Linked DNA regions of Homo sapiens: regions 1, 2, 4, 5, 6 and 7 are each reported to be linked to region 3. Evidence: microRNA targets listed by miRTarBase, many of them from high-throughput screens and not tested one by one. Region 3 holds a microRNA gene; each other region holds the end of a gene's coding sequence.
Evidence for each region. The annotated mature microRNA hsa-miR-196b-5p reads UAGGUAGUUUCCUGUUGUUGGG and lies in region 3 at 1,996-2,017, shown strand. An mRNA with a match to its seed (bases 2 to 7 or 8) in the 3' UTR can be bound and repressed. Matches are read on the target gene's strand: a 7mer-m8 pairs with bases 2 to 8, a 7mer-A1 pairs with bases 2 to 7 and ends in A, and an 8mer does both.

Region 1: miRTarBase lists AJUBA as a target of hsa-miR-196b-5p. The part of its 3' UTR that is shown has no 7-base or 8-base seed match.
Region 2: the mRNA of SP100 is a reported target of hsa-miR-196b-5p. The part of its 3' UTR that is shown has no 7-base or 8-base seed match.
Region 4: miRTarBase lists KLHDC8B as a target of hsa-miR-196b-5p. Seed matches in the 3' UTR shown: 7mer-A1 at 961-967.
Region 5: miRTarBase lists SPTSSA as a target of hsa-miR-196b-5p. Seed matches in the 3' UTR shown: 8mer at 1,448-1,455.
Region 6: miRTarBase lists DFFA as a target of hsa-miR-196b-5p. Seed matches in the 3' UTR shown: 8mer at 645-652.
Region 7: miRTarBase lists SLC23A2 as a target of hsa-miR-196b-5p. The part of its 3' UTR that is shown has no 7-base or 8-base seed match.

The regions. Positions count from the first base shown.
Region 1 is chr14:22,970,980-22,974,093 of GRCh38, forward strand. AJUBA (ajuba LIM protein) reads right to left here. Exons shown (of 8, transcript NM_032876.6): 7 at 3,068-3,114; 8 at 198-2,589. The coding sequence ends at 2,464. Among named protein-coding and RNA genes, the nearest start is that of AJUBA, 10 kb to the right of the region's middle.
Region 2 is chr2:230,542,643-230,545,742 of GRCh38, forward strand. It overlaps SP100 (SP100 nuclear antigen), which reads left to right. Exons shown (of 29, transcript NM_001080391.2): 29 at 194-2,964. The coding sequence ends at 304. Among named protein-coding and RNA genes, the nearest start is that of SP100, 130 kb to the left of the region's middle.
Region 3 is chr7:27,168,431-27,171,544 of GRCh38, reverse strand. It overlaps MIR196B (microRNA 196b), which reads left to right and starts at 1,982; the gene lies at 1,982-2,065. The region is part of intron 1 of HOXA10-HOXA9 (HOXA10-HOXA9 readthrough); the gene reads left to right. HOXA10 (homeobox A10) reads left to right here. Exons shown (of 2, transcript NM_018951.4): 2 at 1-940. HOXA10-AS (HOXA10 antisense RNA) reads right to left here and starts at 2,646. Exons shown (of 3, transcript NR_046609.1): 1 at 2,552-2,646; 2 at 1,781-2,238; 3 at 1-237. RefSeq lists enhancers at 1-25, 1,780-2,370, 2,371-2,961.
Region 4 is chr3:49,175,454-49,178,453 of GRCh38, forward strand. KLHDC8B (kelch domain containing 8B) reads left to right here. Exons shown (of 6, transcript NM_173546.3): 6 at 152-1,033. The coding sequence ends at 348. It overlaps CIMIP7 (ciliary microtubule inner protein 7), which reads right to left. Exons shown (of 4, transcript NM_001080528.3): 4 at 2,181-2,599. The coding sequence ends at 2,183. Among named protein-coding and RNA genes, the nearest start is that of KLHDC8B, 5.4 kb to the left of the region's middle.
Region 5 is chr14:34,432,759-34,435,758 of GRCh38, forward strand. SPTSSA (serine palmitoyltransferase small subunit A) reads right to left here. Exons shown (of 2, transcript NM_138288.4): 2 at 30-2,546. The coding sequence ends at 2,443. Among named protein-coding and RNA genes, the nearest start is that of SPTSSA, 28 kb to the right of the region's middle.
Region 6 is chr1:10,458,947-10,462,060 of GRCh38, reverse strand. It overlaps DFFA (DNA fragmentation factor subunit alpha), which reads left to right. Exons shown (of 6, transcript NM_004401.3): 6 at 359-3,114. The coding sequence ends at 571. Among named protein-coding and RNA genes, the nearest start is that of CORT, 10 kb to the right of the region's middle.
Region 7 is chr20:4,854,439-4,857,552 of GRCh38, forward strand. It overlaps SLC23A2 (solute carrier family 23 member 2), which reads right to left. Exons shown (of 17, transcript NM_005116.6): 17 at 1-2,766. The coding sequence ends at 2,534. Among named protein-coding and RNA genes, the nearest start is that of RASSF2, 32 kb to the left of the region's middle.

The sequences.
Region 1 (3,114 bases), not on the chromosome of region 3:
GTGGCGGGCGCCTGTAGTCCCAGCTACTTGGGAGGCTGAGGCAGGAGAATGGTGTGAATCCGGGAGGCGGAGCTTGCAGTGAGCCGAGATAGCGCCACTGCACTCCAGCCTGGGCGACAGAGTGAGACTCTGTCTCAAAAAAAAAAAAAAAAAAAAAAATATCCCTGAGGGGATGGATGTAAAGTTACACAAGCTTGTCTGGATTTCCCATCATAGGGCCTTTGTATTCACTTATTTAATAATAGTTCAGAAGAAGCTATCTCAGCTGTACAAGAAGTAATTCAGTTTCAGAACATTTCTCACTCCAACAAGGTGCATTTTCCCCTCTGGCGCTCAGTTGTATAAATCTGACCTCTTTCCCTCTCACTCAGAGATCTCTTTTATGTATTTCCCAGGTTGGCTGGCATAGTCACCTTAGAATAGCCCCCAAATGTGGAAATTCTGTTGTCAGGAGTCATCATTTCCAGTAAGAAACTCACTGAGTGACAGAAAATGAAGACTAAAGATCAAAGATTACTAAATTAATTTGCCTAAAACCAATTCACCTAAAACCAATTAGTCTAAAATAAATATTTATCAAATCTGCAGCATTTCAAAAGGATTTAGCAGATTCACCCTTTTAGTTATTACTGTTGTCTGTATAACTTTTCATTGTAAGTCAACTGAATATGCCTCATGCCTATTCATTTGTTTAAGATATACTGGCCTTTTTAACAGTAGGAATGTAGAAGTTAGACCAAAGCATCAAAATCACATTGAACTCCATTATATTTTTCAAGGCATTTAATTTGTAAAGGAATATTGGATTAAGAAACAAAAAAATGATACACAAAATGTCTGTACCAATTGTATTTATTGCTAGAAACTTTAAACTTTTTAAAAAAGTTTTTGAATGGTAGATAACATAGAAAAAGACATCCATAAAGGTAGGAAGCAATCTCATCATTTACAAAGTGCTGCAAATTTGATAAATTTATGTTGCTGATAATAGCTCAGAAGTACTCTTGGATGAATAGATATAAATCCTTGAAATATCCAAAGCATGACAAAAAAGAATAGGACACCTAAATGGATATAAACACACCAAAATAGGAATTGAGCTTTTGGCAAATTAGTCATTAAGTCATTAACTTTAAGCAAACAAGTTTTCAGTAAATTGGTTTTAAGAGATCTAGCTTTAGGTGAACTAGTTTCAAGCAAACTGACTAGTATCAAATCAGTGTTTTGCTCCCTCCAGTTCCCCCCAACTCTAGTTTTGGGATTGTGATGGATGCAATCCGGGACCCCTCTGAGAGGTGGCAAGTGAGCTTCTACTAGGAAACCAAGTGTACAAGTGACCTGAGAAGAGAGTAAGAAAGAGTGAGAGAGAGACAGAGAGACAAGAGAGAGAGTGTGTGTGTGCATGAACACACCCACACATGCATACACTGGGCTATATGGCTCAGTGCACCTAAACTTGGGAATGTGGCTAAGCTGAAGCTTCCTAGACATCCCCCCAACAAGCTCCACACCCACAGAGATCTGCTCATTACCTCCCCCAGCCAAGGAGAAGAGCAACCACGTACAATCACCTACCTAGCCTCCCCAGACCCATGTAAGTTCCTGAGAAACAGGGAATACAGGCAGCAACCCCACTCAGAGCTGGTCCCCATTCTCAGACAGATAAGGAGCTCTCCTAGTCCTTAGAAGAAGGCCAAGAAATAACTCATTAATGAGGTCCAGAGTTTCTACCTCTTCATCCAGATATAGGTGCGGGACCCCATATCTGACACCATGTGTCACAAAAAGTGAGGAGCTTAAATTTGGTTGCCTAGCAGGAACTCACCACCCTAGACTTGCTACCTCTCAGGGACATCCCACACTGCATCAACCACAACCCCAAAACTCTGGGGTTTGGGGGAGCTGGAGGGAGAATTACACTTTGATTTGGTTCTAGTCAGTTTAGCTGAAACTAATTGATTTAAAGCTAGGTCCTCTACTCCTGGAATCCAGGACCAGAACATTGCGTGACTCATGCATAATCATACACTAGGCCAGACACAGTGGCTTACGCCTATAATCCCAGCACTTTGGGAGGCCAAGGTGGGAGGATCATTCGAGCCCAGGAGTTCAAGACTAGCCTGGGCAACATGGTGAGATCCCATCTCTAAAACAAACAAAATATATATACTGAAGATACAGAATCAGATGTTCAGAAAGTCCTGGAACCCTCCTGTGTGTGCCTAAGCTCAGACTGCACACATGGGAAAAAGGCCAGTCGCCCCCACCCTGGTAAATATAAGGTTTCTCTTCCACAATCCATTTGGAATATCATGATCTTTGGGTCTCCGGCCCTTGGGGTCCTCCCCAGAGGACTCTTCTGCCAGGCCTGCAGAGTGCATTCTTTGCCTTGGCTGGCCTCAGAGGGGCCCACTGGCCACAGCAGTTTGTCTGCAGGGTGACAGCAGCAGCAGTGATTGCAGCTCAGATATAGTTGGCAGGGGGTTGTCGGGCATTGAGCCGCTGCATGTGGCAACCATGGCAGAGCAAGTGCCCATCCAGAGGGAAACAGCAGCAGCCTTCCTCATCACTCAGCTGCATCCGGCAGTCCTAGGGAAGAAGGCACCTAGTTCACCTCAGCCTAGGCACCTTGGACACTGAGGGTATCTTAGGAGTCTGCCCTGCTCAACACCTGACTCCTAATAACTGGAAGAAAGGGATGGGGTGGGAAGGGAAGGATGGAAGGGATGGAAGAGCAATCTGAGAAAATACTAATACCTCAGCTGGACACCAGGTGTCACTGCTGCAGCAGAAATAATGACACAAGCCTGTCTTTCAAGAAGTTTGACCAGAGTCCCTAGTCTTAGAAAGTCCTGACTCTGGGAGAGTCAGATTCAGAAAGGACTAAGCTACTTGGACCAGAGAGAGTGGCTGGAGGACAAAAAAGAGACTGAAGATAGGTCACAATATCTTTCTGGTTTCCCATGCCCTACACCTCTCCCATAGATGTCTGGTTGTTGCAGGACTTGACTCCTCCCCTCTCCCCATTTCCACTTCTTCTCCAGCACCGCTGAACCCCAACACTCACCTCACAGTGGTAGCACTCAAAGTGATAATCCCGGTCCATGGATATCA
Region 2 (3,100 bases), not on the chromosome of region 3:
GTGTAGTAGTATTTTGACTTGTCTTCCAGATAAAGATAAATAATTAAATTATCAAGGAACATAAGCAACTCAAGTAGATTAATTCTCACTTAACATTTGGGATAACCTAAAATGAGGCCCCAGATTATCTGCAACACTGGGTGTCTCAGCTCATTGCATAACTGCTATATTGTTTTTTTCTTTGCTTTTTTAGGAAGATAAATTCACCAGACTGGGAATTCAAGTACAGGACATCTTTGAGAAGAATTTCAGAAACATTTTTGCAATTCAGGAAACAAGCAAGAACATTATAATGTTTATTTAGCCATTCTTATCTCCTCCCTTCAGATCCTCTGGCAGCTAGCTACGCAATGTGCCTGTGGTCCCACTAATCTGTGACTGCTCCTGTGGAAACTCCACATCACAATTCTCCAAAATTTATCATTGCCATTTTAAAACCGTCTTTTCAGCTTTCAATAAAATTCAACACCCCTTCATGTTAAAAATTCTCAATAAGCTAGGTATTGAGGAACATATCCCAAAATAATAAGAGCCATTTATGACAAACCCACAGACAACATTATATGGAATGCGCAAAAGAAGCATTCCCCTTGAAAACAAGCACAAGACAAGGATTCCCTCTCTCACCACTCCTATTCAACAAAGTATTGGAAGTCCTGGTCAGAGCAGTCAGGAAGCAGAAAAAAATAAAGGGTATCTAAATAGGCAAAGAGGAAGTCAAACTATCCCTGTTTGCACACAACATTGATTCTATATCTAGAAAACCCCCTAGTCTCAGCCCAGAAGCTCCTTCTGCTGATAAACAATTTCAGAGATGTTTCAGAATACAAAATTAGTATATGAAAATTACTAGTATTCCTATACACCAGCAATAGCCAAGCCAAGAGCCAAATCAGGAAGGCAATCTCATTCACAATTGCCACTAAAAGAATAAAATACCTAGGAATACAGCTAATCAGGGAGGTGAGAGAGTTCTACAATGAGAATTACGAAACACTGCTCAAAGAGATTGGAGATGACACAAACAAATGGAAAAACATCCCATGCTCCTGTGTAGAAACAGTCAATATCATTAAAATGACCATACTGCCCAAAGCAGTTTACAGGTTCAATGTTATTCCTATCAAACCACCAATGACATTCTTCACAGAACTAGATAAAACTATTTTAAAATTCATACAGAACCAAAAAAGAGCCCAAATAGCCAAGGCAATCCTAAGCAAAAAGAACAAAGCTGAAGGCATCACGTTACCCCACTTCAAACTATATTACAGGGCTTCAGTAACCAAAACAGCATGGTACTGGTACCAAAAAAAAAGCCACATAGACCAATGGAACAGAACGAAGAGCACAGAATAAGACCACACTCCTATGACCATCTGATCGTCGATAAAAACAAGCAATGGGAAAAAGACTCCCTATTTTATAAATGGTGCTGGGATAACTGGGATAGAAGATTGAAGCTAGACCTCTTCCTTACACCATATACAAAAATCAACTCAAGATCAATTAAAGACTTAATGTAAAATCAAAAACTATGAAGACTCTGGAAGACAACCTAGGCAATACCATCCTGGACATAGGAACAGGCAAAGATTTCATGATAAAGACAAAAGCAATAGCAACAAAAGCAAAATTTGACAAATGGGATCTAATTAAACTTAAGAGATTCTGCACAGCAAAAGAAACAATCAACAGAGTAAACAGACAACCTACAAAATGGGAGAAAATATTTGCACACTATGCATCTGACAAAGGTCTAATAGCCAGCTTCTATAGGGAACTTAAACAAATTTACAAGACAAAAAGAAATAACCCCATTAAAAAGTGGGCAAAGGACATGAAAGACACTTTTTTTTTTTAAGATGGAGTTTCACTCTTGTTGCCCAGGCCAGAGTGCAATGGCGTGATCTTGGCTCACCACAACCTCTGCCTCCCGGGTTCAAGCAATTCTCCTGCCTCAGCCTCCCAGGTGGCTGGGATTACAGGCATGCACCACCTGACTGATTTTGTATTTTAGTAGAGACGGGGTTTCTCCACATTGGTCAGGCTGGTCTTGAACTCCCGACCTCAGGTGATCCACCCACCTCGGCCTCCCAAAGTGCTGGGATTACAGGCATCAGCCACCATGCCCGGATGAAAAGACACTTTCCAAAAGAAGATACACATGCGGCCAACAAGCATGTTTTAAAAGCTCAATATCACTGATCGTTAGAGACATGCAAATTAAAACTACAATGAGACACCATCTCACACCAGTCAAAATGCCTCTTTCTAAAAAGTCAAAAAATAACAGCTAGTAAGGTTGTGGAGAAAAGGGAACATTTATACACTATTGATGGGAGTGTAAATTAGTTCAACCACTGTGGAAAGCAGTGTGGCAACTCCTCATAGTGCTAAAAGCAGAACTGCCATTCCACCCAGCAATCCCATTACTGGGTACATACCCAGAGGAATATAAATCATTCTACCATAAAGACACATGCATGCAAATGTCCACTGCAGCACTATTCACAATAGCAAAGATACAGAATCAACCTAAGTGCCCATCAGTAACAGATTGGATAAAGAAAATATGGTACACATACACCATGGAATAGTATGCAGCCATAAGAAACAATGAGATCATGTCTCAGGAACATGGATAGAGCTGGAGGCTATTATCCTTAGCAAACTAATTCAGGAACAGAAAACCAAATACCACAGGTTCTCAGTTGTGAGTGGGAGCTAAATGATGAGAACTCATGAACACAATGAAGGGAACAGACACTAGGGTCTACTTGAGGGTGGAGGATGGGAAGAGGGAGAGGAGCAGAAAAAGTACCTATTGGTGATGAAGTACTCTGTACAACAAACCCGTGACAAGAGTTTCCCTATATAACAAACCTTCACATATACCCCTGAACCTAAAAGTTTTTTTAATTGTAAATAAATGGATCATTAAAAAAAATTTTAATAATAAAATTGTCTTATCAAGTTCTCTTATTGAATAATTTGGAACGAAACTTACAACTGATAACATAAAGTCTTTCTATAAAGGATCATATTATATCTTCCCAATTATTCAGTTTTGTATTTTTTGTTGTTGCCGTGAAAGCAA
Region 3 (3,114 bases):
CAGCCTGGGGCAAACCTAGCCGGAAGGCCGAGGTCCCATTGTTGGCGCTGAGGTGTCTGGCCTGAGGTCAATGGTGCAAAGGAGCCGCCACCGGGCATGTCTGCCTGGAGTGCTGTGCTGTGTTTAATCAGGGGATACAGGCCCCTGGGTTTCTTTTTTCTTTCTTCCTTTCTTCCTTGGCCAAGAGAAGGGCTTACAGGCATGGACATGCAGGTTGGCAAACGGGCTTGACTTTGGCTGATTTAAAAAGTGAGAAAGAAAGTAAAAAAGGTTAATTTTTCCTTCCTCTGTAAGATATCCCAGCTTTAAAAAGAAAAAAAAAGAATTACCAAGAGAAGGGGACTTCTCTTCCAGTTTCTGTAAGGTCTTACATTGCCTGACTAAAATGTTTCATTTACCTCTAAATTTCCATATCCTTCTGGCTGTAGATAAATAATGTAGTTTTGTTTATGCATTTGGAATTAGTGGATTTTTTTGTCATTAAAATTGTTACCACTGGTAACATGTGACAAGCACACCACAATTCTCCCTATCTTGTGAAGTTGTTTTTTTAAATCGCCTTGAACAAAAAGTTTTTTTTTTGTTTGTTTTTGCTTTCTGAAATTCACAGAAGCCTAGGAGGACTGGGGTAAGCGGAATAAACTAGAGAAGGGAGACATTGTTTGGATTTCCTTTATACTGTGAAGTTACATGCATAAAAGGGTCAAACCTGTAGATGCAGAAAAAGAAAAAAACTATAAATACAAATCTGTATAAATGTCTATTATTATGAAGAATTGCCAATCTTGTTTTAAGCAAATGCATTCTATCGTTATTATAAATGTTAGTTCTAGCTCTATTTACTTCTAATCTTAAATCAGAATAAATTAATATTGTATTGCTGCTGTGCGTGGAAAAAGACGATGTTTATGTTCTTATAGAATAAAAGCTGTGGAATGAAGCTTTTTAATTTTACCTCTTTTTTGACTTCTTATCTTCACCTTCCACTTTATCCCGTTCACCACTTTTACAACAGGAGGACTAACCCGAGCCCCTGCAATTACTTTAGGCATCTATTTAAATATTACCTAGACGGTCGTAATTTGTCTGGGCCCTATAGCCCTGGTGCCGTAAGGTTTGTCGGCTTTTGTTCAGTTTTATGGCTTGCTAGTATATCTGGATTGTGGCTGTCTTGGACCAGTGATTTCAGTTGAGAGGGGAGCTACATAGACAGAGGAAGCCAAACAGGATTTCTTTCGGGAGCCCCAGGGAGGCTTGCAGAGGCCGGTTATTTTGCGGGTGTCTGGGTCACAGATGACCCTCAATCTGAATCGGGGAGCAGGCCTGGCCCACAGCGCATCTCTAGCCGCTGGAGGCAGCGGTTAGGTGGACCCGGGCTGGACTGCATGGGGGCCTCCCCCTCCCCCAGTACGGCCTCCCCCACCTGGCGGCACTCCTTAGGGCCACGCGTTTCCTGCTTGCCAGAGTGGGGGGGGCGGGGGCTAAGGGGAGGGGGCGCAGGAGCGCGCGCCCCGGCGGGCGGGCAGCTAGGAGGGAGAGGGGGAGAGCGAGAGGCGGGAGGCCGGGGCCAGACAGGGAGCCGGGATCTGTACCGTCCCTGGCGCTTTCGAGCCTTCCACGGCTACCGCCTCTTGGCGCCGGCTCGCTGGGCTGCAAGATTTGGGAAAGCGGCGCGCACACTGCTTCTCGGAGCTGCTCTCGTCTCGCCTGCTCCCCGCCTTTATTCCTCTCTCCCTGCCTTTCCTCCCTCTCTTTTCCTCCCTCTCCCTCCCAGGAATACCTTACTGGGGCCTGTGGCTTCCCCTTCCTTGACGCATTTGCGGCCGCCTGGGGCACTCTGTTGCACTGGCGGGCGCAGGTTGCCTAGGGGCTGGGCTGGGCCGGGCCAGGCGCGATGGCAGGGTTCTCTCCTTGGCGGCGGCGGCAGCGGCGGAGGCGGCGGCGGCGGCGGGCGAGGCAGCCCTTCGCGGGCAGCACCAGAACTGGTCGGTGATTTAGGTAGTTTCCTGTTGTTGGGATCCACCTTTCTCTCGACAGCACGACACTGCCTTCATTACTTCAGTTGAAATCGTCTCCAGGTACCTCTGCGCGCGGGGGTCGGGCCGGGCGGGGCATCACGGCCCTGGTCGTGCCAGGCCTGCGGTGGCAACCTCGGCTTTCCCTGCTCAGGAGCCTCGTGTCTTTCTCCGCAGCGCTTTGCCAGCCGGCCGGCTTTCCCCTTCCACCACACACCTCCACCTGGTCACAGCAGGTAGGGTTAGGTTGGCTGCTCCTTCGCGGACGCCGGGGGCGTGGTAGGAATTCTGGGCTTTGGGCCATTCAAGGTCAGGGGCGCCCGCTTCCATCCTGAGCCTCCCACTGGAGGCCTGCGCCTGCCCAGGGACCTCCTGCCATTCTCTTGTAAGGCTGGAACACACACACACACACACACACACACACACACACACACACCAGTCCCGGGTGTGAGCTCAGGAAAGAACCTCCTTCCAGTGGAGACTCAGGCTGGACTAGGAAGGATAGGGCAGGCTGGGATCCTGGCCTTGTCACTTACCCTTCTCTCTGTAAGCTCGGCCGCTGCTAGGAGTCGCCTCTCTTTTCTTCCTTCTTTTCCCTGTCTTCCCTTCCTCTTTTATCTCTTCTTTCTTTTTTTCTTCTTTCCTTTGCTCCTTCCTGCTTTCTTTTCTTCCGTTGGTCTTTTTTTCATCTTCCGTCTCTGCCAGATTCTATCTCACCTCCTTATCTCCTTCCCAAAGCATCCTTGGGGAGGGGCCCAGAGCTGGCTTCAGGAGAGCCTAGGGGGTCTCACTTTCCTCTGCGGCTCAAGTAGAGGTTGGGAAGTCTGCCGAGGAAGGGCCCGCGTGGGGCGGCTGCCGAGGGCGGTGGGTTTGGGCCTGGTGTGTTACTCTGCAGACAAGGCCTCGGTTATGATCACGACCGGATGGCGGCAGCCTTGCGTTTCTTCGCCTGTCGCTAACGGCTGACTAGGAGATCTGATTAGGGGACATTCGCTGCAGCTTTGTGTGCCCATATCGAGGGCAGGGAGGCCTTCGCCAGCCTCACTGGGGACTGGAGCTGAGGCCCAACCAGCCTCGCTGGAGCCTGGCCATTCGCTGG
Region 4 (3,000 bases), not on the chromosome of region 3:
AACAAATGATGAACATAGGCAATGAGGAGCAAGGCCCTGATAGCTCATCCTGGGGTGATAACTACTGGGCTATTCTCTGGGCTTAGGGAGCAGAAGGGCCTGGAGTCCCTACGGCCTGTGCCTCTCACAGCCTTCTCTCTCCTTCTTGCAGGAAACCAGCCATGTCCTTTGGGCTCTGTGGAGAGCTTTAGCCTTGCACGGCGGCGCTGGGAGGCATTGCCTGCCATGCCCACTGCCCGCTGCTCCTGCTCTAGTCTGCAGGCTGGGCCCCGGCTGTTTGTTATTGGGGGTGTGGCCCAGGGCCCCAGTCAAGCCGTGGAGGCACTGTGTCTGCGTGATGGGGTCTGAAGGCTTGGTGGGAGCTGTCCACTGGAGCAGCTCATTGCCAGAGGCAGCTATTTCTATGGCTCCTTTTGCTGCTGAGGACACTCACTGTGGCTCTGTGGGATGAGAGAGGCATGGGGGTGAGCACTTGAAACACTGCCTTGGGGCCTTGGGTTAGGGGAGCCTTTGTCTTTAGTGCAGGACACACATATGCTTACACCTACCTTTATCACCATTCGTTCATGAATCATGCCTAGCTCCATCCTTGCCCTGGGACCTACTAGGCCTTCCATCCAACTGGGAAATGGGGAGAAGCAAAGCTGGCCTCATGCTCTTCAGGGTCAGTTCCTATCTGGAGTTGACCAGGCCTACCCCAGTTGCCATTCCTGAAAAATCTCAGCTGCCAGGCTGCCTTTAGGGTCCCTGCAGACCCAGGAGAGTTGAGAGGGTGGGGGACACAGAGAGAATAGAGAGGATGTGGGAACTGCCAGAGGGCCGGAGCGCAGGAGTTCAAGTGGAGGAATGCTGGCTTTGAGCCCTCTACACTGCTGGTTGTATGACCTTGGACAAGTCACTTCACCTCTCTGTGCCTCAGCATCCTCATCTATAAATGGGGATCTCTGAAACCTTCCTACCCTACCTACCTCACAGGGCTGTTGTGAGGACCCAGGGAGTTTGGATGTGGAAGTAAAAGTGCTGCTAAAACCTAGTGTGTGGACCCTGGTGTGAACTCCCTTGTTTCCACTGCCCCTGCCTTCCTTTGGGGGTCTCAATGCCCCTAGGGATGAGGGTCCAGAAGGAGCCTCTTGGATCTGGTCGGTGTTCCCAAAGTGATTTGGTGTTTCTGTTCCATCTGAGCCTCAGCTTATTCTTTGGCAACATGTGATGACAGCGCCTCCTTACTGTCCTGGGGATTAGAGAGCACTAGGGCAGTAAGGAAGGGCTGTCACATGTCACCAAAGGATGGCAGGATAAGATGACCAGAGAAGTGCTCAGAAAACAACAGAATACCACAAGGTTAGGAAGACCTCCAGATCCAAGTTACAGAGTGTCTCCTTAGGGTCTCTGCTCACCCCCACAGGGAGGGGTGGTGCAGTGGGTTCTGTGGCCCAGGGCAGTCTCTTTCTGTCTCAGCTGTGGGGCAGCCGTCTCTTGGACAGGACTGTGTGGCCACCCAACAAACCCCTCAAAGGCAGCTGCCTCCTGAGAAAGCTGCCAACTCTTCCTTCTTCCAGCCTTTGTCGCCCACTAGTACTGGTCTCTGGGGTCTGCTTTCCCCATAGCTAAACTGAGTACTTGACCTGCTTCCCCAGTGATGCCTTTCATTCTAGGGTGAAGCACCTAGAAAGTCAGTGGCCCACAGGATATTTGCACATTGTCTGGCACGCTGGCAGAGGAAACCAACACAGAGATGTCTCTGGGGGAATGGGCTGTTTCCCAGAGGAGAAAGGTTGTGGGGAAGTTAGTCACTCCGCTGCCTTCATAAGGAGCCCTCCCTCAGTGTCACCCCCTTCACCCTGCCACCTGCTCTGTCCTGACTTCAACTTAGGCTGGGGACTGCCCTCTAATCTTCCTCTCTACAGCTGGGTTTACTGCAAGAACAGAGTAGTACTTGGGGCCCTGGAACCCACCTGATGTGGCTATAGCAATCCTCCTGGACTCTTAGCCTCCTGCAGGCCTTACCCTTTCTCACTTAGTGGCAGGGATCCCAGAGCAGCACCTCCCATGCCCAGCACAGAAACACACCATGGGCACAAGTGCCATGGGAGACAGGCACAGGACCTGGCAGCCTACTACTACCTTTCAGCCTCTTGGGCTACATCCCATTGTGGGCTGCAAGCACAGACAGGCTGCTGTGTCAGCTGTCCTTGTTTAATGCTCTGGACCAGTTTAGACACTCAGAGACCCCAGCATGAAGGTAGTGCTGCAGCAGCTTGGGTCTTGGGATCCCTGGGAGGTCAGGCAGTACGTCAGTGACCGGCGCCTGGGGCCCTACCTTGTAGCTGCCATAGTGGCCACCCTGGGATGGGCAGCAGAAGTTCTGCTGGTAGGTGGTCCTGGTATGGGAAGGCTGGACCTGCACAAAGTGGATGAGGTGCTGGGGGAGGCCACTGAGTCCTGGGCCTGGCCTGAAATCAGCCTGGTAAGAAGATTCCAGGGGCCCCTGCTGGCGCAACTCTATCTCACAGGGTGCCCAGCGCAGGAAGGTGTGCCGCTGCCACAGGCGCTCCAGGTCCTTCCGCCTTCCGATTCCCTGCAGCAGGCAATAGGGACCCTCCTCAACGGTATGGGCCCTTGGCCCACATTCCTGGCACCAAGCACCTTCTTGGGCCCCTCCTAACCCCAAGTCTGCTTGGTGATACCTGTCCTATGCCTGGCTGTCTTGGCCTGTACCCTGGCCTCCTTGGCCTGCCTCCCCAGTGATGTCTTTCATTCTAAGGTGAAGCACCCAGAAAGTTAGTGGCCCACAGGATACTTGCATATTGTCTGGCAAGTTGGCAGAGGAAACCAACATAGAGATGTCTCTGTTTGGGGGAATAGGCTGTTTCCCAGAGGAGAAAGTTTGTGGGGGAAGACAGCCACTCCTCTGCCTTCATAAGGAGCCCTCCCTCAGTGTCATCCCCTCCACCCTACCATCTGCTCTGTCCAGACTTCAGCTTAGGCTGGGGGACTGCC
Region 5 (3,000 bases), not on the chromosome of region 3:
ACTTGTTGAAGGCTCAAATAATCATTAGCTTTTTTCAGCAATAAATAATTCTTTAATTAAGATAGGTATATTGGGTGTTTTTTTTTTTTAGCCATAATGCTACTGCACACTTAATAGACTACAGGATGGTGTAAATGTAACTTTTATATGCAGGGGAAAACCAAAAAACTTCATGTGACTCACTTTATTGAGATATTCACTTTATTGCAGTGGTCTGAAACTGAACCCACAATAACTACAAGGTATGCTTGTAAATACCTTATTTTTAACAAAAAGTGAAAATGATTTCCCTGTTATTTACTAACAAATAGACCAGACATTTGCATCAGACAGTGAGCATAAACTTCTCTGATCACCTCTCAAGAGACATCTCCCATTTCTCTTTTGACTCTCCTCAAGATTTCCTGTAAGACCAAACTTTATCTTCCATATGTCTCACAGGTCAGTGTTCATAATAACCATCAGTTATACAACAGCAATTTAATGAATCTCAGAGTGAAGACAAATTGCCGGTTTCTGAGTAGAGGGCCAGGATAGGTCACCTGGATACTCATTGAAACTAATGATTCTCAACTTCTCCTGCCTTCAACTCACCAGAGGAATATTAGACATCCACTTGTTAGTGGTTCTCTATGGGGGATAGTAGAGGAAAGCCAAATTTGGGCATTAATAGAACAAATCTTATGTTAAATCCTCGTATTATTTTTCTTGAGATAATATGACTACAGCTCAGATATAACCATATCCAATTTTTAACTACTTCAAACCAAGTAATTCCATATTATTCTCACTACTCCTATCTAATTGTGGTATCAATTGGCTCTAAAAATATTAAACACATATATATTACTTGAGACCTCTAGACTATAAAATACTTCAAAAGTCTAGTCCTTAAAACGTAGGGCAAAAAATACCTCAATTTTGGCCGGGCGCGGTGGCTCACGCCTGTAAACCCAGCACTTTGGGAGGCCGAGGCAGGTGGATCAGGAGGTCAGGAGTTTGAGACCATCCTGGCCAACACAGTGAAACCCCGTCTCTACTACAGATACAAAAAATTAGCCAGGCATGGTGGCAGGTGCCTGTAATCCCAGCTATTCAGGAGGCTGAGGCAGGAGAATCACTTGATCCCAGGAGATGGAGGTTGCAGTGAACCGAGATCATGCTGTTGCACTCCATCCTGGGCGACAGGGCAAGACTCCGTCTCAAAAAAAAAAAAACAAAAAAACAACCCAGCAACACACATAATTGCCTAATTCTTTTCAATTAGCAATATTTTTATGTTGCAAAACATATAGGATAAGACATACTTACTGCTTATCTGGTCCTCCACAGAAAATAATTCAGCAATATAAATACTAGATCAATATTTAACCATCAAGGAAAAGATATACTGCTACATCAGCTGATTTTTTTTCTCTTTGAATTTAATGTATTTACATCAAAAAATTAGGTAGTCATTTTACATTTAAGGAATAAAAACCTTAAAAAAAACAATACAAAGAGTGAAAGGATTTTAACCAAGTTTACATTTCTTTTTGCTATAATTTTTAACAACAATTCGTCTCATCATAACTTAATGCAATGTGCAAATGCAGCACCCATTACAATCATTAAACTAAATTTAAGGAAGTACATTGTTAATAGTGACCCTCGGAGGAAATGGATTTCTCTTCTATTAAAAACTCTATGGTATATAAGCATTACATAATAATGCTACTTAACCACCTTTTGTCTCAAGAATTATCACCAAAGTTTTCTGGAAATAAGTCCACATAAGAATTAAATATTTAAAAGGTGAAATGTTCCTTATTTTAACTTTAGCAAGATCTTTTCTTTTTCATTAAGAAACACTTTAATAATTTTAAAGCAAAAGCTGTTAGAGTCTAGATAGCTAAAACTGTACTCCTGAGTTCAAGCTTACAGATAAATCTTTTGTTAAGTAGTTCTCAATAAAATATCTTCCCTCCCCATACCCCTACCCGAAATCTTATATTGTTCTTTACAAAACTTTGGTCAAGAGTAGAAATATATCCAGGCAGATGTATATGCCATACAATAGCAAGAACAGTAAAGCCCAACTAATGATTTTGAGTTTTAAAAATAGAAGGCAATTAAAATGTACTCAAAGTTACATTAAGAAAAGCTTTCACGGGGGTAATATTGAAACAGTCACAAAGGTTAAGAAAATACTGATATCAAAGTACAAATGACTACAATGTTAAAATAGACAAAAACTGCTATACAAGAGCCTCTTTGAAAATTAAAAATAAAGAACACAACACATGAGTCAGGATGATTTTCCTGTTCTACTCATGAATTTTAGTCTTTATAAGGTTGGTTATGTTGACATCTAGAAGAGTTTCTTATCACATCTGATGGTCTCATTCCAACTTCGTAGGGTGGGTCTTCCCCAAGGAACCTCTGATCCTGGTCGCATCTTGGTCATTGTACGATTTCAAAGTAGTGCAATATCGCCATGATGTGCTGGGGCATGAAGACGTATCCTGTGTATAGTGCCATCCCCACAATGGAAACCAGCATGGAATCTGAGTTGTAGTTAAGGAAACTTATTATTATTAATTTATTCAAAACTAAATCTCCACATGTCTTCAACAACTCTTTTATGCTGAAGTACCCATTCACTTAGTGCTTTCTCATTTATATCAAGCACTGATAAAAAAAACAACAAGAATGATAATACTAGCCACTAACAACCATGCCTGGCACCACTCTAAGCTGGTTTTGTTTTATTTTGTTTTTAGCTCATTCTATCTTTACTATCACCATATAAAGTAAGTACTGTTATTCTCCCTGTGTAGTTGAAAATATCAGACTGCTTCAAATGTTTTTGTTTGTTTGTTTCTCTTTTTTTTTTTTTTTTTTTTTTGAGACAGAGTTTTGCTCTTGTTACCCAAGGCTGGAGTGTAATGGCACGATCTCGGCTCACTGCAACCTCTGCCTTCTGGGTTCAAGTGATTCTCCTGTCTTAGCCTCCTGAGT
Region 6 (3,114 bases), not on the chromosome of region 3:
CGGTGAAACCCCGTCTCTACTAAAAAAAATACAAAAAAATTAGCCAGGCGTGGTCGTGGGCACCTGTAGTCCCAGCTACTCAGGGGGCTGAGGCAGGAGAATGGCGTGAATCCGGGAGGCGGAGCTTGCAGGGAGCCGAGATAGTGTCACTGCACTCCAGCCTGGGTGACAGAGCGAGACTCCGTCTCAAAAAACAAAAAGCCCGTGGCAATTAATGGTAAAGGAAACCCGGCATTTCAGTGTAAAGAGGTAACATAAACGGATACTGCCTCATTGCACTCCCCAAAAGAGAGTCAGGAGAGCAGCAGGAGAGGCGCACAGAAGGCCCAGTTCTCAGGGGTTTTTATTCTTGCTGCAGTTGGTTACCAAGGAAGACCCCAAAGCACTGGCTGTTGCCTTGAACTGGGACATAAAGAAGACGGAGACTGTTCAGGAGGCCTGTGAGCGGGAGCTCGCCCTGCGCCTGCAGCAGACGCAGAGCTTGCATTCTCTCCGGAGCATCTCAGCAAGCAAGGCCTCACCACCTGGTGACCTGCAGAATCCTAAGCGAGCCAGACAGGATCCCACATAGCAGCAGCGGGAAGTGTGCCAAGGAAGCTCTGTGGCGTTGTGTTATTGGTAGACACCCTCAGCCTCATCATTTGACTACCTATGTACTACTCTACCCCCTGCCTTAGAGCACCTTCCAGAGAAGCTATTCCAGGTCTCAACATACGCCGTTCCACCAATTTTTTTTTTAGCCCCACCAGCTTCAGGACTTCTGCCAATTTTGAATGATATAGCTGCACCAACAATATCCCGCCTCCTCTAATTACATATGATGTTCTCTGTTCAAAAGTAATTGGCAGTGATTGGCCAGGCGCAGTGGCTCACGCCTGTAATCCCAGCACTGGGAGGCCGAGGGGGGCGGATCGTGAAGTCAGGAGATCGAGACCATCCTGGCTAACATGGTGAAACCCTGTCTCTACTAAAAATACAAAAAAAATTAGCCAGCCATGGTGGCGGGCGCCTGTAATCCCAGCTACTTGGGAGGCTGAGGCAGGAGAATGGCATGAACCTGGGAGGCAGAGCTTGCAGTGAGCTGAGATTGCGCCACTGCACTCCAGCCTGGGCAACAGAGCGAGACTCCGTCTCAAAAAAAAAAAAAAAAAAAGTAATTGGCAGTGACTATGGGCGCACTGCCTAACATTTAGCCCTGCCCCATATGGAACATGTTAAAAAAAAAAAAAGCCAGGCCGAGCGTGTTGGCTCACGCTTGTAATCCCAGCACTTTGGGAGGCCGAGGCGGGTGGATCACGAGGTCAGGAGATCGAGACCATCCTGGCTAACACAGTGAAACGTGTTTTTACTAAAAGTACAAAAAACTAGCTGGGCGTGGTGGCAGGAGCCTGTAGTCCCAGCTACTCGGGAGGCTGAGGCAGGAGAATTGCTTGAACCGGGGAGGCAGAAGTTGCAGTGAGCCGAGATTATGCCACTGTACTCCAGCCTGGGTGACAGAGTGACACTCTGTCTCAAAAAAAAAAAAAAAAAGGACAGGCACGACAGTGGCTCACACCTTTGATCCCAGCACTTTGGAGGCCGATGCAGGCGGATCACATGAGGTCAGGAGTTCAAGACCAACCTGGCCAATATGGTGAAACCCCGTCTCTACTAAAAATACAAAAATTAGCTGGGCATGATGGCGGGTGCCTGTAATCCCAGCTACTCGGTAGGCAGAGGTTGCAGTGAGCTGAGAGCGCACCACTGCACTCCAGCCTGGGTGACAGAGCTAGACTCCGTATCTCAAGAAAAAAAAAAAGTTTTGTTTTGTTTTTTTGAGACAGAGTCTCACTCTGTCACCTAGTCTGGAGTGCAGTGGCACATTCTCGGCTCACTGCAACCCCCACCTCCCAGGTTCAAGCGATTCTCCTGTTTCAGCCTCCTGAGCAGCTGGGATTACAGGCACGTGCCACCATGCCCGGCTAATTTTTGTATTTTTAGTAGAGACAGGGTTTTGTCACATTGGCCAGGCTGGTCTCAAACTCCTGACCTCAGGTGATCCACCCACCTCAGCCTCCCAAAGTGCTGGGATTACAGGTGTGAGCCACCACCCCTGGCCAGAAAAAAAAGCTTTTAAATAAAGTAATTGTCAGCTTAGGCAACATAGCAAGACCCTGTCTCTACAAAAAAAAAATTTAAGTTAGCCAGGCATGGTGGCACTGACCTATAATCCTAGCTACTCTGGAGGCTAAGGCGAGAGTATCACTTGAGCCCAGGAGCTCAAGGCTGATCATGCCACCATACTCCAGCCTGGATGATAGAGTAAGACCCTACTTTTTTTTTTTTTTTTTTAAAAAGGTAACCATCAAGGGCAATGAAAAGAAATGGTCGTATTTCCAATTCATTATCCTTATTCTGAAGATAGTACGGCAGAATTTTAAGCAGAGATAGTGGTGAAGATGGTGACATTATAGAGTGTTGACTATGGCCACAATCTTGTTTCTCCAGTTAATGAATTTTTTTATGTGTTTGTTTAAAGATACATATTAAGCTTGTAGACCATAGGGACATACGGAGAGTCCATTGCTAATATCTCACTCAGTATTGTGAAATTCTATCTCACCACCGTGAAACTCTTCAGTTTTCTAATTGCTTTATCAGCAGGGGGTATAAAAGGTCATGAAAGCAATTTCCACATGCTGTGGCTCCAGGTCTCTGGGTGTGAAGCAGAGCAAGCCTGGTTTGTCCTCCTCCTGTCTCCACACAGACGGCTTCTGCAGGTTTGGTAATCTACAGTACACTCCTTGCAGGGAAAAGGTGATGAGTCATCATGGACTTATTTGACCACTTTTTATGCATGCTTAGAGGAAAACAGAATACTGTTAAGAGATTCATCTGCTAGTTATTAAGTAAAGAAATATCACAATAGGCCGGGCGCAGTGGCTCACACCTGTAATCCCAGCATTTTGGGAGGCCAAGGTGGGCGGATCACCTGAGGTCAGGAGTTCGAGACCAGCCTAGCCAACATGGTGAAACCCCGTCTCTACTGAAATTATAAAAAATTAGCCGGGTGTAGTGGTACACGCCTGTAGTCCCAGTTACTTGGGAGGCTGAGGCATGAGAATTGCTTGAACC
Region 7 (3,114 bases), not on the chromosome of region 3:
ATTAGGGGACTCCAATCACTCAAGGCTGTGCAGAAAGTACCAGATTCAGCAGGGGCATCTAGTCAGGCTGCCCTCTTTGCTCCCCACCTCCTATTCCCTTACCCCTCCTCGGACAGAATTATTGGGTTGGCCACAGTGGAATCAGAACAGGAAACTCTCACTCCAACAGGAGTTGAAAGGGTAGGGCTTCCTTCCCTGTGTGAAGGCCTACAGAGGGCACCCCACATGTTAGCGGGGTTGAATCCTCCTGATACAACCCGGCCCAAGGAGGGGCTTCAGAAGGGAGTGGGTTTCTGGATGACTAGAGCAGACACCTTGAGTGTTATGCAGCGGAAGACGCCCAGTCAAGCTGAAGAGAAGGTGCCCCTGGATCACCAATGGCTTTCAGGCTTTTATTTGGATATTTGGTCTTTCTGCTCACCTGGAGAGCTAGAAGATTGCAAATCTCTGGGATGTTTAGCAGTTTTCCCCATTTTTCAGAGCAGAGAAACTGGAGATGTTGAGCAAAATCCAAACAGAAGGAACTGAGAGCAACTCATTGCAGGAGGGCTGCCAGCCTCAAGAGTGTCCCAAGGCAAGAGGGATGGAAACCGCGAGCCAGTGTGCTTCTAAAGTATGCATCAAAGACACATTTAAAAAAACATACAAAATTAGATGTAATTTAGCATCTAAGTTCTTTACTTAATCTGCAGTAAGTTTTTGGCAAAACAATGCAGTGGCTCCGAGGTGTTCTTGCCAGAATAAACCTTGAAGCCCCAAACTTCCAAGAGTGAAGGGGGCTACGGTGACATGGCAATGCTGCAAAGACAGCGCCGCAGCACTGGAGAGCTGAGCCAGCCTGGGGCCGAGGGGGACAGGAATGCACCGTGTGGACACCAGGCTGCCAAGAACCATGCCCTGCCGCTGGAGACAGGAGACAGGCACCCACGCAGCTGACCAAAGCTCGACCAGGCCAACGGCCACCGAAGATGTGCCACCTCATGAAGCGAGGGCACTGCTTCCTATCTCAGGCCTTTTCCTTCACTGAAAAACTTCAAACCAAACCAAGAGGAGTCATTTCTCAGGAAGAATTTAGTGTTATTAATTAGAACTCTCTTAAGTGAGAGGGAGCCTGTTGGCTGCTTTTCTTATCACCTTTGGCAACCACCCTCACCTGTAAAATCAAGATCTAACGGACGTGCGACATGGCAACCCACAGGAAGTCTCCTTAAGCCAAGACTTGCAACAGAAGCCCGGCAAGCGGGACAGACCGGCGGACAGACCGTTCCACGTGGCGGCTCTGCGTGTTACCTGCCCCAGCTTCCCTTCTTCACAAAACAAATTCACGTGTAACTTGACCCATGGTTTCTGGGCTCCGGTCCAGTAGTCAGTTTTGATAAATAGATTAGGCATTACAGTATTTACACTTTCATGGTATCAAGCAATACAAAACACAACCACAACAATGGTTACTGGCCTTCAAAAGCCGTTACAACAAGCTTCCCTGATGGTGTCCACAGCTTTACAAATGCTGGTTCTTTTCTTGATGGGGGGAAGAGTGGGTGGGGGACAAGGAATAGGGATGCAAGGAAAGAGGGTCACATGGAAAACACTGATTTCCAAAATCTGCTATAGTCAATAACATTAAATAGGAATAAAACCTTGTAATTATAGACGCGCGCGACAATAACATCCACATGACGGCAGAGCCAAGACGCCCATCAGCTTGTGTGACTGGTGCCTTGGGTGGCACTCTATACTCATCACACCGGCCAACAGTGATAAATGCCAGAGAGGGTGTCTCGGCCACTAGTGAAATGAAAAGAGGCCAGTGTGCACGTGCTGGCCCGGTCAGGGCCAGGGTGGCCAAGAGAAGGTGCAGCCGAGAATCAGATATTGGCTTCAGGGTCCTTTCCTTTTCCCTCCAATGCCCCAAACAGATGTTCATTCAACATCTGTGCAGGCCTCACCCATGGCCAGATCTGGGCACAGGGGAGCCACGCCACTGTTTTCAGGTCAACAGCCTCCTCCTCCGGGAGATCAGCGACAACAGAATCATACTGGGCCAGTCAGTCATGATAGCGCAAGGCATACTAGTGCCCCTTGGTCAGAGGAGGTCTCCGCGGGCACAGACGAGGGTCAAATGACAAGGAAACAGGTCCAGGGGCTTCGGAGAGAGAGAGAAAGCCCCTGGACCCTGGAGGTGGCTTATAGGAAAGCCAGCCCTGGGTGGTGGAAGGGAACTGAAGCAAGGAATGGCTGCAGATTTTAAATGTCCACTCCAAAGGGAGGACTGGAACTTCAAATTTAGTGACCATGGCCAGCAATGGACACTCTCAAAGGGCAAGGAGTTAAGGGCTTAAATAAGGAGATAGGCGAGACACCGCATCAGGCACCATCACCCTCACAGCAGAAAAGTGATTCGCAGTCTGTCTTAGCTCTGGGGCGCAGAATGTAAATGTAGATATACAAACATGTATTTTACTTCTTGTTACTCAGCAAGGAACTACAGATACATGCCTCACTGCGGCCAGGCCACAGGGCACAGCAAAGGCTATCCCGTGGCCTGGGAGTCTTCATCTGAACTCCGGCTGTTGTCGCTCTTCCTGAGGCCTTTCCATGTGTAGCCCACAAAGGTTGGGCTGATGGGTAAGTAGCTGAAGCATCTGTATTTTTTTATAATGTTCATGCCAAATGGCAAATTGTACGACTCCATGCCGTCGAGTGATTTGTTCCCTTTGCCCACACCCTTCTTCCATTTCCGGATTCCTCTTTCCTCTGGAGTGCCTGTCACACATCCCAAGATAGAACAAAGGAATGCTTCGTTTAGCAGCTCTACTGAAAATGAAACTGTCGTCAAACACATACACACACACACACACACACACACACACACACACACACACACACACACACACATGGTCCCACAGATCAAACCTGCCTAGATAACAGCAAAGAATACTTGAGGAGGTGAAGGTGCTCAGCTATCCAGTGCCCAAACCAGAAGTCTAAGAAGCACTAACCCCTCCATGTCCTCATTCAAGCAATCACCTAATGACCTTCTGACCTCCCTATCCTTCTATGTGACCCATATTCTCAATTTTCACTGTTAGGGCCCAGCTCAGGCCATGTTAT